Linked DNA regions of Homo sapiens: region 1 is linked to region 2. Evidence: fine-mapped expression QTL. Tissue or cell type: whole blood. Region 2 holds a variant in brackets; the other region holds the start of a gene. All regions are shown on one strand. Distances are from middle to middle.

What was found. PIP is the estimated chance that this variant, and not a neighbour inherited with it, causes the effect.
Region 1: it holds the start of HIF1AN, and the variant in region 2 is fine-mapped to the expression of HIF1AN in whole blood (TOPMed, PIP above 0.99).

The regions. Positions count from the first base shown.
Region 1 is chr10:100,532,269-100,537,871 of GRCh38, forward strand. HIF1AN (hypoxia inducible factor 1 subunit alpha inhibitor) reads left to right here and starts at 3,675. Exons shown (of 8, transcript NM_017902.3): 1 at 3,675-3,867; 2 at 4,143-4,393. The coding sequence starts at 3,691. RefSeq lists enhancers at 3,435-3,524, 3,595-3,654.
Region 2 is chr10:100,490,706-100,496,378 of GRCh38, forward strand. SEC31B (SEC31 homolog B, COPII component) reads right to left here. Exons shown (of 26, transcript NM_015490.4): 18 at 5,553-5,673; 19 at 4,680-4,841; 20 at 1-178. Among named protein-coding and RNA genes, the nearest start is that of SEC31B, 26 kb to the right of the region's middle. The variant A/C (reference allele first, on the strand shown) is at 2,936.

The DNA of each region.
Region 1 (5,603 bases), 42 kb after region 2:
GATCAGATACACAATTCATAAATATTTTCTCTGACTCTGTAGGTTTTTTTGCTTTTTTACAGTATCATTTGGAACCCTGTGTTTATCAGGAAGGGGTGTTGGGGTTTGTCAAAAGCTTTTTCTGTGTCTATTGAGATGATCATGTAGGGTTTTTTCTTTTACTAATATAGTGTATTATGTTGATTATAAATATTAATCAATAAAATATTGATTACTACATGGTGTGTTATATTGATCATTCTGAGATGTTGAACTGACCTTGCATTCCTGGAATAAATCCCACTTGGTCATAGTATATAATTCTTTTATATGGTGTTACACTGAGTTTGCTAGTATTCTGTTAGGATTTTTGCATCTATATTCATAAGAAATATTGGTCTATAGTTTTCTTTCTTTCTTTTTTTTTTTTTTTGAGACGGAGTATCGCTCTGTTGCCCAGGTTGGAGTGCAGTGGTGCAATCTCGGCTCACTGCAAGCTCCGCCTCCCAGGTTCACGCCATTCTCCTGCCTCAGCCTCCTGAGTAGCTGGGACTACAGGTACCCGCCACCATGCCCGGCTAATTTTTTTGTATTTTTAGTAGCGACAGGGTTTTACCGTTTTAGCCAGGATGGTCTCGGTCTCCTGACCTCGTGATTCACCCGCCGTGGCCTCCCAAAGTGCTGGGATTCCAGACATGAGCCACTGCACCCAGACCAGTGTTAATTTTTTAAAAAATGTTTGGTAGGATTCATCAGTAAATCTATCTGGTCTTGAGCTTTTCTTTTTCTTTTTCTTTTTTTTTTTTCCTGAGATGGAATCTTGCTCTGTTGCCCAGGCTGGAGTCAGTGGCACGATCTCAGCTCACTGCAACCTCCGCCTCCGGGATTCAAGCGATTCTCCTGCCTCAGCCTCCCAAGTAGCTGGGACTACAGGCGTGCACCACCATGCCTGGCTAATTTTTGTATTTTTGATAGCGATGGGGGTTTTACCATGTTGGCCAGGCTAGTCTCGAACTCCTGACCTCAGGTGGTCCCCCCGACCTCGGCCTCCCAAAGTTCTGAGATTACAGGCATGAGCCACTGTGCCCAGCCTTTTCTTTTCTTTTGAGACAAGGCCTAGCTCTGTCTCAAAAGGCTGGAGTGCAGTGGTGCAATCTCAGTTGACTGCAACCTCCACATTCCGGGCTCAAGTGATCCTCCCACTTCAGCTTCCCGAATAGCTGGAACTACAGGCGTGCCACCATGCCTGCTAATTTTTTTTTTTTTTTTTTTTTGGCTGGGGGGATTTGGTAGAGATGGGGTTTCTCCATGTTGCCCAGTCTGGTCGCGACCTTCTGGGCTCAAGTGATTCGCTTGCCTCTGCCTCCCAAAGTGTAGGGATTACAGATGTAAGCCACCATGCCCAGTTTCTGGGCTTTTCTTTATGGGATGTTTTTGATTCCTAATTCAATCTCTTGTTACAGGTCTATTCAGATTTTCCATTTCTTCTTGAATCAGCTATTATAGCTTGTGCCTTTCTAGGAATCTGTCCATTTCATCTAGGTTCTGTAATTTTTTGACATACAATTGTTTACAGTATGTCCTTATATGCTTTTTTTGGGGGGTAAAGTCAGCAGTAATATCCCTGTTTCATTACTGATTTTAGTTCTTTTAATCTTCTTGATCTTAATTAATTTATTTATTTTTAGTAAGACAGGATCTTGCTCTGTCATCCAGGCTGGAGTGCAGTGGCATGATCATGGCTCATTGCAGCCTGCACCTCCCAGGCTCAAACAATCCTCCTACCTCAGCCTCCCTAGTAGCTGGGACTACAGGCATGCATCAACGCACCGAGCTAATTTTTAAAATTTTTTGTAGAGATGAGGTCTTGCTATGTTGCCCAGGCTGATCTGGAACACCCAGGCTCAAGTAATCCTCCTGCCTCAGCCTTGAAAAGTCCTGGGATTACAGGCATGTGCCACCATGCCTGGCCTAATTTATTTTTAATTCCCAAGGTTATGAATTAATACATTCTTGTAAAAATTCAAACATTCAGCCTGAGCAACATGGCAAAACCCTTTCTCTACAGAAGGAAAAAAAATTAGTCCGGCATGGTGGTGTGTGCCTTTAGTCCCAGCTACTTGGGAGGCTATGGTAGGAGGATTGCTTGAGCTGGGGAGGTGGAGGTTGCAGTGAACCAAGATTGCATCACTGCACTCCAGCCTGGGTGACAGAGTGAGACCCTAGCTCAAAAAAAAAAAAAAAATTCAAACACTGCAGATAAAATGAAAGCCTTGATTGCCCCCTGCAGCCTCAAACACTTCCACAGAGGTAGCCCTATTATCGGTTTGGTGTAGCATGGTTACTATGTAGCATAATTACATAGTTAAGCCAGTGCATTCATTTCTATTACTGCATAACAAATTACTGTAAATTTAGCAGCCCAAAACACCAATTTATTTTCTCACATATTCCATGAGTCCAGGTACTGGTTGGCTGAGTCCTCAGCTCAGGGTCTTATCAGGCTGAAATCAAGGTGTTGGCTGGGTTAGCGATCTCATCTGAGGCTCCGTGTGTGTCCTTTCCCAAGTTCAGTGGTTGTTGCCAGAATTCAGTTACTTGCATTTGTAGGATTAAGGTGCCCACTTTCTTGTTGGCTGTCACCCAGGAGCCTTTCTCAGCTCCTAGAGTCCACCTGCCATTTCCTGCCATATGGCAGTTTGCTCCTTCAAGGTGAACAGGACAGCTGTGCTGTGGCTTCAAATCTCTTAGATTCTGTCTCTGACCTCTAGCCCTGATTTAAAGGGCTAGAGTGATAAGATGAAGCCCACCAGGATAAATCACCTCTTTTTGACTGCCTTAAAGTTAATTGATTAGGGACTTTAATTACATCCTTGTCATATAAGCTAACCTAATTACAGGAGTGATGCTCTATCATATTCACAGTCGTGTTTTCTTTTAAGGGGAGAAATGTATACAGGATGTGTACACCGTAGGGTACAAATCTTGGGATACATCTTAGAATTGGGCCTCTCACAGCCAGCCATAAGAACTGTCCAAGTAAGCAATAGAGGTATTAATATGGCCTTTTATAATCAGTATAGATTGTTTGAAAATGTGAGATGTCCATGGTTGGCCTCTAATAACATTCGATTCACGGCAAACATATATTCAAGTAGGAGACATGGTGATATAGGCAGAAAAATCAAATGATGCTAAACAAAAGAAAACTGTCTTTGATTTTGAAAGAATTCAACTTGCTGTATATCTTTTGCCTAAGCCTTCAGTCAGCCTTTGCTCTACATCTACCAATGTGATCACTGCTTTTCCTTCTGACTTCTTTAGGTGGGTCAAGAGTTTGCTTTTCTCCCCATTCATGAGTGTAAAGTTTAATGCCTAACTGAACTTGCTTCCTTCTTTGACTCTTGTGTAGACTCGGGCACATGGGGCAACTTTTTTTGTGTTTTGCTCTACCAGGTCGTCCCTATTCCGTGGGACTAGTGTCTAGCCCCATTTCTTCAGCAGTGGAGCCTAGGATGTAGAGCTGCATACTACCATTAGGAGGCGCACCCTCAGGCCTCGGCTCCGCGTTCTTTATGTCTCTGGACCGCTCTCTCTCGCAGCTCATCTCTATGGTTTCCGTTGGGTGTGTGGTTTTTTTGTTTTTTTTTTTTTGGGGTCCGGAATAGGCGGAGCTTCCGGTTCCGGTGGGGGCCGTCCCTGGCGGCGGAGATGGCGGCGACAGCGGCGGAGGCTGTGGCCTCTGGCTCTGGAGAGCCCCGGGAGGAGGCTGGAGCCCTCGGCCCCGCCTGGGATGAATCCCAGTTGCGCAGTTATAGCTTCCCGACTAGGCCCATTCCGCGTCTGAGTCAGAGCGACCCCCGGGCAGAGGAGCTTATTGAGAATGAGGTGGGGGGCGGGGCCGCGTCTAAAGGGAGAGGAGGAAGGTACCCGGTTGAGAGGTCAGAGGTGAATGGTGAAAGAGATGGGAGACTGGCAGGGCTCTAGACTAGGGCCTATGGGAAGATGGAGAGAAAGGCGAGGAGATACGGAACTTAGGGGTTCGTGCTGATTAACAGGAGAAATTATTCTGAAGTTGAGAAGTAGTTGGGATCATGGAGGCCAACCCACCGGCTCCTTGGCATTACTTCATTTGGTGTTTTTCACCTGTTGTTTTCATTTAGGAGCCTGTGGTGCTGACCGACACAAATCTTGTGTATCCTGCCCTGAAATGGGACCTTGAATACCTGCAAGAGAATATTGGCAATGGAGACTTCTCTGTGTACAGTGCCAGCACCCACAAGTTCTTGTACTATGATGAGAAGAAGATGGCCAATTTCCAGAACTTTAAGCCGAGGTCCAACAGGGAAGAAATGAAATTTCATGAGTTCGTTGAGAAACTGCAGGATATACAGCAGCGAGGAGGGGAAGAGAGGTAAATTCCGAAAGCTTAATTTTCTGTTGGATTTAGGACACTCATTTTTCTTTCCTATACTTGTTTGAAGGTGTGGCAGAATTGGGTCAATTAGAGATTGGCCTCTCCCATCTCTGGATTCCAGTTGAAGGAGTAGTCTGGTCTTCCAGCCTTTAAGGGGTTTGAGTTCTTAGTGGTTCTTGGTGCTACAGCCAGCTAGTTCTGTAGCTTGAGGGATGAGGGAATGATTAAACTTGAGCTATGAATCTCTGGGTTCCCATCTTCTTCCTCATAAAGAGTTAGTTGCCTAGAAGGGTCAGGCAGGTGAATGGAAGGAGTAATATCGTCTGTGTGAAATCAGTGATGAGGCTGAAGGCATAAGCCTTGTTCAAAGTGAGAAGCCAAGGCCGGCGGGGGTGGCTCATGCCTGTAATCCCAGCACTTTGGGAGGCCGAGGTGGGAGGATTGCTTGAGTCCAGGAGTTCAAGACCAGCCTGGGAAACGTGGTGAGAGCTAGTCTCTGCAAAATTAAAAACTAAAACAAAAAACCATGGTGAGAGGTCATTACTTGACTCTGCTTGCTTCAGTTTTGGAGTGCAGTTCTAGGGTTGGGAGATATTCCGATTTTCAAGAGAAGTTCAAAATCAGGATTTTTATTTAAAATCTTTTGACTTTAAATGGAGCAACTAAATCAGATTTAAAGAAAAAAAGTTGCAGGGGGCCAAACAAAAATGTTTGTCACTGGATTTAGCTCTGAAAATGCCTGTTTGTAGCCATTGTCCTTAAGTATTGTGATGACTGAGGATAGTTCAACCTGAAAAGTTGTATAGTTTGTTGTGATTCTGCAGTAAAGAAGGTTAGGATTCTCTAGCTTAGGGAAGATCAGATTAAATTTGTTTTTCCTATCACAACAGCAACACAAGACACACAAGACAGTGATTCTTCCTCTCTGCTTTTATTCCTGCTTATGAGGACAGCCTCTTATGTAGGTCCGAGACAGTATTCAGTCCCACACTATAACACTGCCTCTGGGGAATTGCTTTCGCTCAGTACTTCACGGTGAATTACCCTCTCGCATTTGGTGTCCAACCCTGGGTTTCTCTCTAGTCTCTTGCTTCACTCACTCCTGTTCCTGACTCCTTATCAGCAGTCTGTGGCTAAGTGAATGGATTTGAAATATCTTTTTTTCTTCTTCTTAACACTTAGCAGTTGTCATAATGATGGGATTTTT
Region 2 (5,673 bases):
CAGGCCTTACCCCAGGGCTCAAAGGCAAAGGCTGGATGGCCTGGGGCCCAGGTGCCCTGTAGTCACTTATATTCTGTGTCCTGGGACCCTGATAAGGGCTAGGATGGGAAGGTGCCAAGGGCATCGCTGGTGATGACTGAGGGGTGAAAACCCTTGGCCTTGGAGATGGAGTTGGGACCTATGAAGAGAAAAAAACATCAGCTCTTGGAAAGGAAAGAGAAAGGTAAATAATAGAAAACAGAAAAATAATAGGGAAAATTAATGAAACAAAAACTAGTTCTTTGAGGAAAAAAATCAATAAAATTGATAAACATCTAAAAACTGATAAAGATAAAAAGCAAGAAGATATAAATCATCATCAGAGATGAAACAGGGACTATTACAACAGACCCTGAAGCCATTAAAAATATAAACGAATACTACAGAAAACTTTACATTCATAAATCTGACAACTTATCAGAAATGGACCCATTCCTCAAGAACCATAAACTACCAAAACTCAGTCACAATGAAAGAAGATCTGGATAGTCCTATAACCATTAAAGAAATTGAGTTTGTAATTTAAAAGCTCCCAAAAAAGAAATCTCCAGGCCTAGATGGTTTCACTGGAGAATTTCACCAGTCAAAGAATTAATGCAAAGTTTATGTAATCTCTTCCAGAAAATAGAAGGAACACTTCCTAACTAATTTCATGAGGCCAGTATTACCCTGATGCCAGCAACAGAAAAAGATAGCAGAAAATAAAACTACACATCAATATTTCTCATGAACTTAGACACAAAAATCCTCAACAAAATTTTAGCAAATCAAATAATGTATATAAAAAATAATATTCCACAAGAAAGTGGGATTGATTCCAGGTCATACAAAGCTGATCCAAGATATTTAAAAACCAATCAATTTAATCCCCTATACCAACAAACTAAAGAATGAAAATAACATGATGACAGAAATGATGCAGAAAAAACATTTGACAAAATTCAACACCGATTCATGATCTAGTACACAAGGTGTTATGGTCTGAATATGCTCCCCAAAGTCATGTGTTGAAAACTGAATCCTCAATGCAACAGTGTTGGGAAAGTGGGACTTTTTGTAAGTGTTTAGGTCATGAGGGCTCTGCCCTCATTAATGGATTAATGCCACTACAAAAATGACTTGCAGGAGTGGGTTTGCTTTCTCTTGCACATCTGCTATCTGCCATGTGAGAACACAGCAGCAAGGCACCATCTTGCAACTAGAGGGTGGAACCGTACCTGCTGGAACCATACCTGCTGGTGCCTTGATCTTGGACTCCAGAACCATAAGAAATAAATTTCTGTTCTTTATAAATTTCCCAGTCTGTGGTATTCTGTTATAGTGGCACAAAATGGATTAAGACACAAGGAATAGAGGGAAATGTCCTTGGTCTCATAAAGAGCATCTGTGAAAAACCTAAAGCTAACATCATGCTTAATGCTGAAATATTGAATGTTTTTCCTCTAAGACTGGAAACAAGGCAAGAACATTCATGTTCACTATTTATTTATTTTTTTTGAGACAGAGTTTCGCTCTTGGTGCCCAGGCTGGAGTGCAATGGCACAATCTCAGCTCACTGCAACCTCCACCTCCCGGGTTCAAGCGACTCTCCAGCCTTGCCTCCTGAGTAGCTGGGATTACAGGCATGCGCCACCATGCCCGGTTAATTTTATATTTTTAGTAGAGATGGGGTCTCACCATGTTGGCCAGGCTGGTCTCAACTCCTGACCTTAGGTGATCCACCCACCTCAGTTTCCCAAAGTGCTGGGATTACAGGTATGAGCCACAGCGCCTGGCTTATGTTCACTATTCTTATTTAACAGAGACTGGAAGTCCTAGTCACTACAATAAGGCATAAGAAAGAAATTAAATGCATATAGATTGAAAAGAAAGAAAACTATCTATTTGCAGATTTGTAGACAGCATGACTGTCTATTAGAAAACCCCATGGAATCCACAAAAAACTTCTATAACTATTCAGGAAAGTCACAGGATATAACCAGATCAACACATAAAAATCAACTGCATTTCTATATACTCACAATGAACAAGTGGAAACCAAGAAATTTGATTTTAAACTGCTGAAGAAAAAAATTAAATACTTAGTAGGCATGAGCTGACAGGTGATATAAAAAATTAAATACTTAAGTATGAATTGGACAAAATATGTACAGGATTGGTGTGACAAAAATTATAAAACGCTGATGGAGAAACATGCCACATTCATGGACTGAAAGACTGAACCTAGTAAAGATGTCAGTTAGGAACTTGTATTTGAATACTCATAGCAGCTTTACTCATAATACCCCAAATTGGAAACTATCCGAATGTCCTTCAAAGTTTGAATGGCTAAAAAAATTAAAACTGGGGCCGGGCGCGGTGGCTCATGCCTATAATCCCAGCGCTTTGGGAGGCCGAGGCGGGCGGATCACGAGGTCGGGAGATCAAGACCATCCTGGCTAACATGGTGAAACCCCATCTCCACTAAAAATACAAAAAATTATCCGGGCGTGGTGGCGGGCGCCTGTAGTACAAGCTACTCGGGAGGCTGAGGCAGGAGAATGGCGTGAACCTGGGAGGCAGAGCTTGCAGTGAGCCAAGATCGCGCCACTGCACTCCAGCCTGGGCAACAAAGCAAGACTCCATCTCAAAAAAAAAAAAAATTAAAACCATGGTACATTCACACCATGGAATACTACTCTGCAATAAGAATGAGTGAACTACTGGTACACAGAACAACTTGAATGAACCTCAAAGAAGTTATGCTAAGGGAGAAAAGCCAATCTCAAAAGGATACATATTGCCATGATTCTATTTAAGTAACAATCGTTAAATAACAATGATAGAGCTGGAGAACATATTGGTGAAGCCAAGGATGAGGGAGGCAGAATAAGTGCAGCTATAAAAGAGGTAACAC[A/C]AGAGAGTCTTGTGGTGATGGTAAAATTGAGTATCTTGATTTTGGTGGTGGTTACACACCACAATGTGACAAAACTGCATAAACACACATAAACACACACCTAACAATATGTAAAACTGGTGGAGACTGAATCTGAAATCTGAATCCATGGATTGTACTAATGGCAATTTCTTGGTTTTGATAGCGTACTGTGGTTGTGTGAGATGCCGACACGGGGCGGGGTGTTGTTGGGATGCAGGAGACATCCCAGTACATTTCTTTGCCACCTCCTGTGAATCTATGGTTATTTTTAAATGAAAAGAGACGGGGAGAGGGAGAGAGAGAGGAGAGGAGGGGAAGGGGAAAAGGGGAGACAAGGGAGGGAAGAAAGGGAGGGAGGAAAGGGAGGGAAAAAAAGAAAAGGAATTAGGGTGGGGATTGAAGGTGGGACAAGATGAGCCATCAGAGCTTCTGCCTGGTAACTGTATCCAAATCTCCCTGGATTCTGTTCTCCGGCAGCTCTAGCAAGCTTCTGGCCTCACATCTTAACAGTATCCAATCCCCCCGGGCACTTTGGCCAGAACCTCTTTCCTCTCCCTCAGTACCCCCAACCACACACACACCTCTCCAAACTATCAGCAATTCTGTCAGTTCTATCTACTAAGTACTAAGTATTTCAAATCCAACCTCACTGGCTAGCTTTAGTTATTTCATGTCTTCATCATCCCTTACTATAGCCTAACTCCCTCCAGCCTGGCCCTTCCTAACATACAGCTAATTATGTCACTCTTCCTAAAACTGTTCAATAGCTCCTCCCTGTCAAGTTTAAGTTCTTTAGCACAGAATGCTAGGTCCTTAGTGATCTAACTCCTACCTGTTGTTCCAGCTTCATCTAACTTCACAGCCACAAACACCTGTGTTGCAGCCCCAATTAAATAATAGTAATTCTCAAAAGGCTTCGGCTTACTCTTGCTTCAGTGCCTTTGTACATGCTATTCTCTGTGCCTGAAACAGTCTTCACTTGCTCATCCCTTTGCCTAAAACCTTTTAATCTTTGAAACTCTGATCAAACATCCGACTTGTTCTGAAACACTCCCTGGACTGCCCCCACAACCTCACCATACAGAGTAAACTACTTTCATCTGTGTGATCTTATAGCCCCTTGCCATACCCCAATCATGGTATTTATGAATTTTACTGTAGCTATTTTTTTTTTTTTTTTTTTGAGACGGAGTCTCGCTCCGTTGCCAGGCTGGAGTGCAGTGGTATGATCTGGGCTCACTTCAACCTCCACCTCCCAGGTTCAAGTGATACTCCTGCCTCAGCCTCCCGAGTAGCTGGGACTACAGGCACGTGCCACCATGCCCAGATCATTATTTTGTATTTTCAGTAGAGATGGGGTTTCACCATGTTGGCTAGGATGGTCTCGAACTCCAAACCTCATGATCTGCCCGCTTTGGCCTCCCAAAGTGCTGGGATTACAGGCGTGAGCCACCACGCCAGGCCTACTGTAGCTATTTTTTACATATCTATCTTTCGACTACACTATGAGCTACTTGAGGGCAAGTATCACAATTTTTGCACCTTTATGTCCTAAGAGCCTAGTAGTTCAATAAACAGTTATTTATTATAAAAAGAACTGAATCTATGTTCTATGGAAGTTGGGAATTTTCATCAGTTTTGTTCACAATATATTCCAAGTGCCCAGAACCATGCTTGGCACGTATTATTGAATGAACAAATGAATGAACAAACGAGGTCTTACCTGGTGAGAAGGCTGGGATCCCAATCTGTAAGATGATGTCTCTTTAGAGTGGAGGGTAGCTCCCACAACAATCCGGGGGAAGGGGAAAGGGGGAGACTGTTGGCCCAAGACAGCAGAACCTTGAGCATGAAAAAGCCGATCTCTTAGCTGCTGAACTGGTGGCTATAAGTTTTAATGAGGAAGAGCTGTGTCAAGAAATTAAAACAATCAAGGCCCCAGGTAGCAGTCAAATTTCAGCTGACCCTCTACACCAAGCTTGTCCAACCTGTGTTATTTTGTTGTTGTTGTTGTTCTGTTCTGTTTTGTTTTGTTTTAGGTTTTTAGCAGCCTGAAGCCATGGTTTTTGGTTTGTCTCTAGTGATAAGTGGAAAACCGGGATGAGGAAGGGGCTTTACTGGCCCAACCAGAAACAGAAACTAAGCACCCACGACTGTATTCTGACCCTTGGACACCCCCGCTCTATACTCTAGCCCCCTTAGAGATGACTCAAGGTTCCTGAATCCCTGCCAAACACTTGCATGCCTCCCTCCTTGCTATTCTTTCTGCTTAGAATGCTCTATATCTGCTGGTAAGCTACTTCTCTTTGAAGGTCCAGCTCAGCTGTTTTAACCATTGAGAAGCCTTCCTTGACTTCTCCAGGCAAAAATCAGTCCCTTCCCTGGACTCCCACAGTGCTCAGTATAAGCTTCTGTTATGGCACTATAAGTCATCAACATCTGATCTTCCCCCAGTAGATTGTGAGGTGCTTAAGGGATTCCATCTTATCTATCCTAGGAGCTTCAGCATTAGCATAGTGCCTGGAATATGGAAGTGCTCAATCAATGTTAGATGACTGAATGAAATGGTTTGCTCTCTCCACATGGCCCCACTTACCTGAGCACAGTCCCTGGGTAGAAAGCTCATGGCAGTGGCCAGGCTGCCCTGGGCTGCCAGGAGGTTGGCATACTGAGTGACCCTGTAGGTTGTGGCAGGGCCTGGGCTCACCCCATGAGGA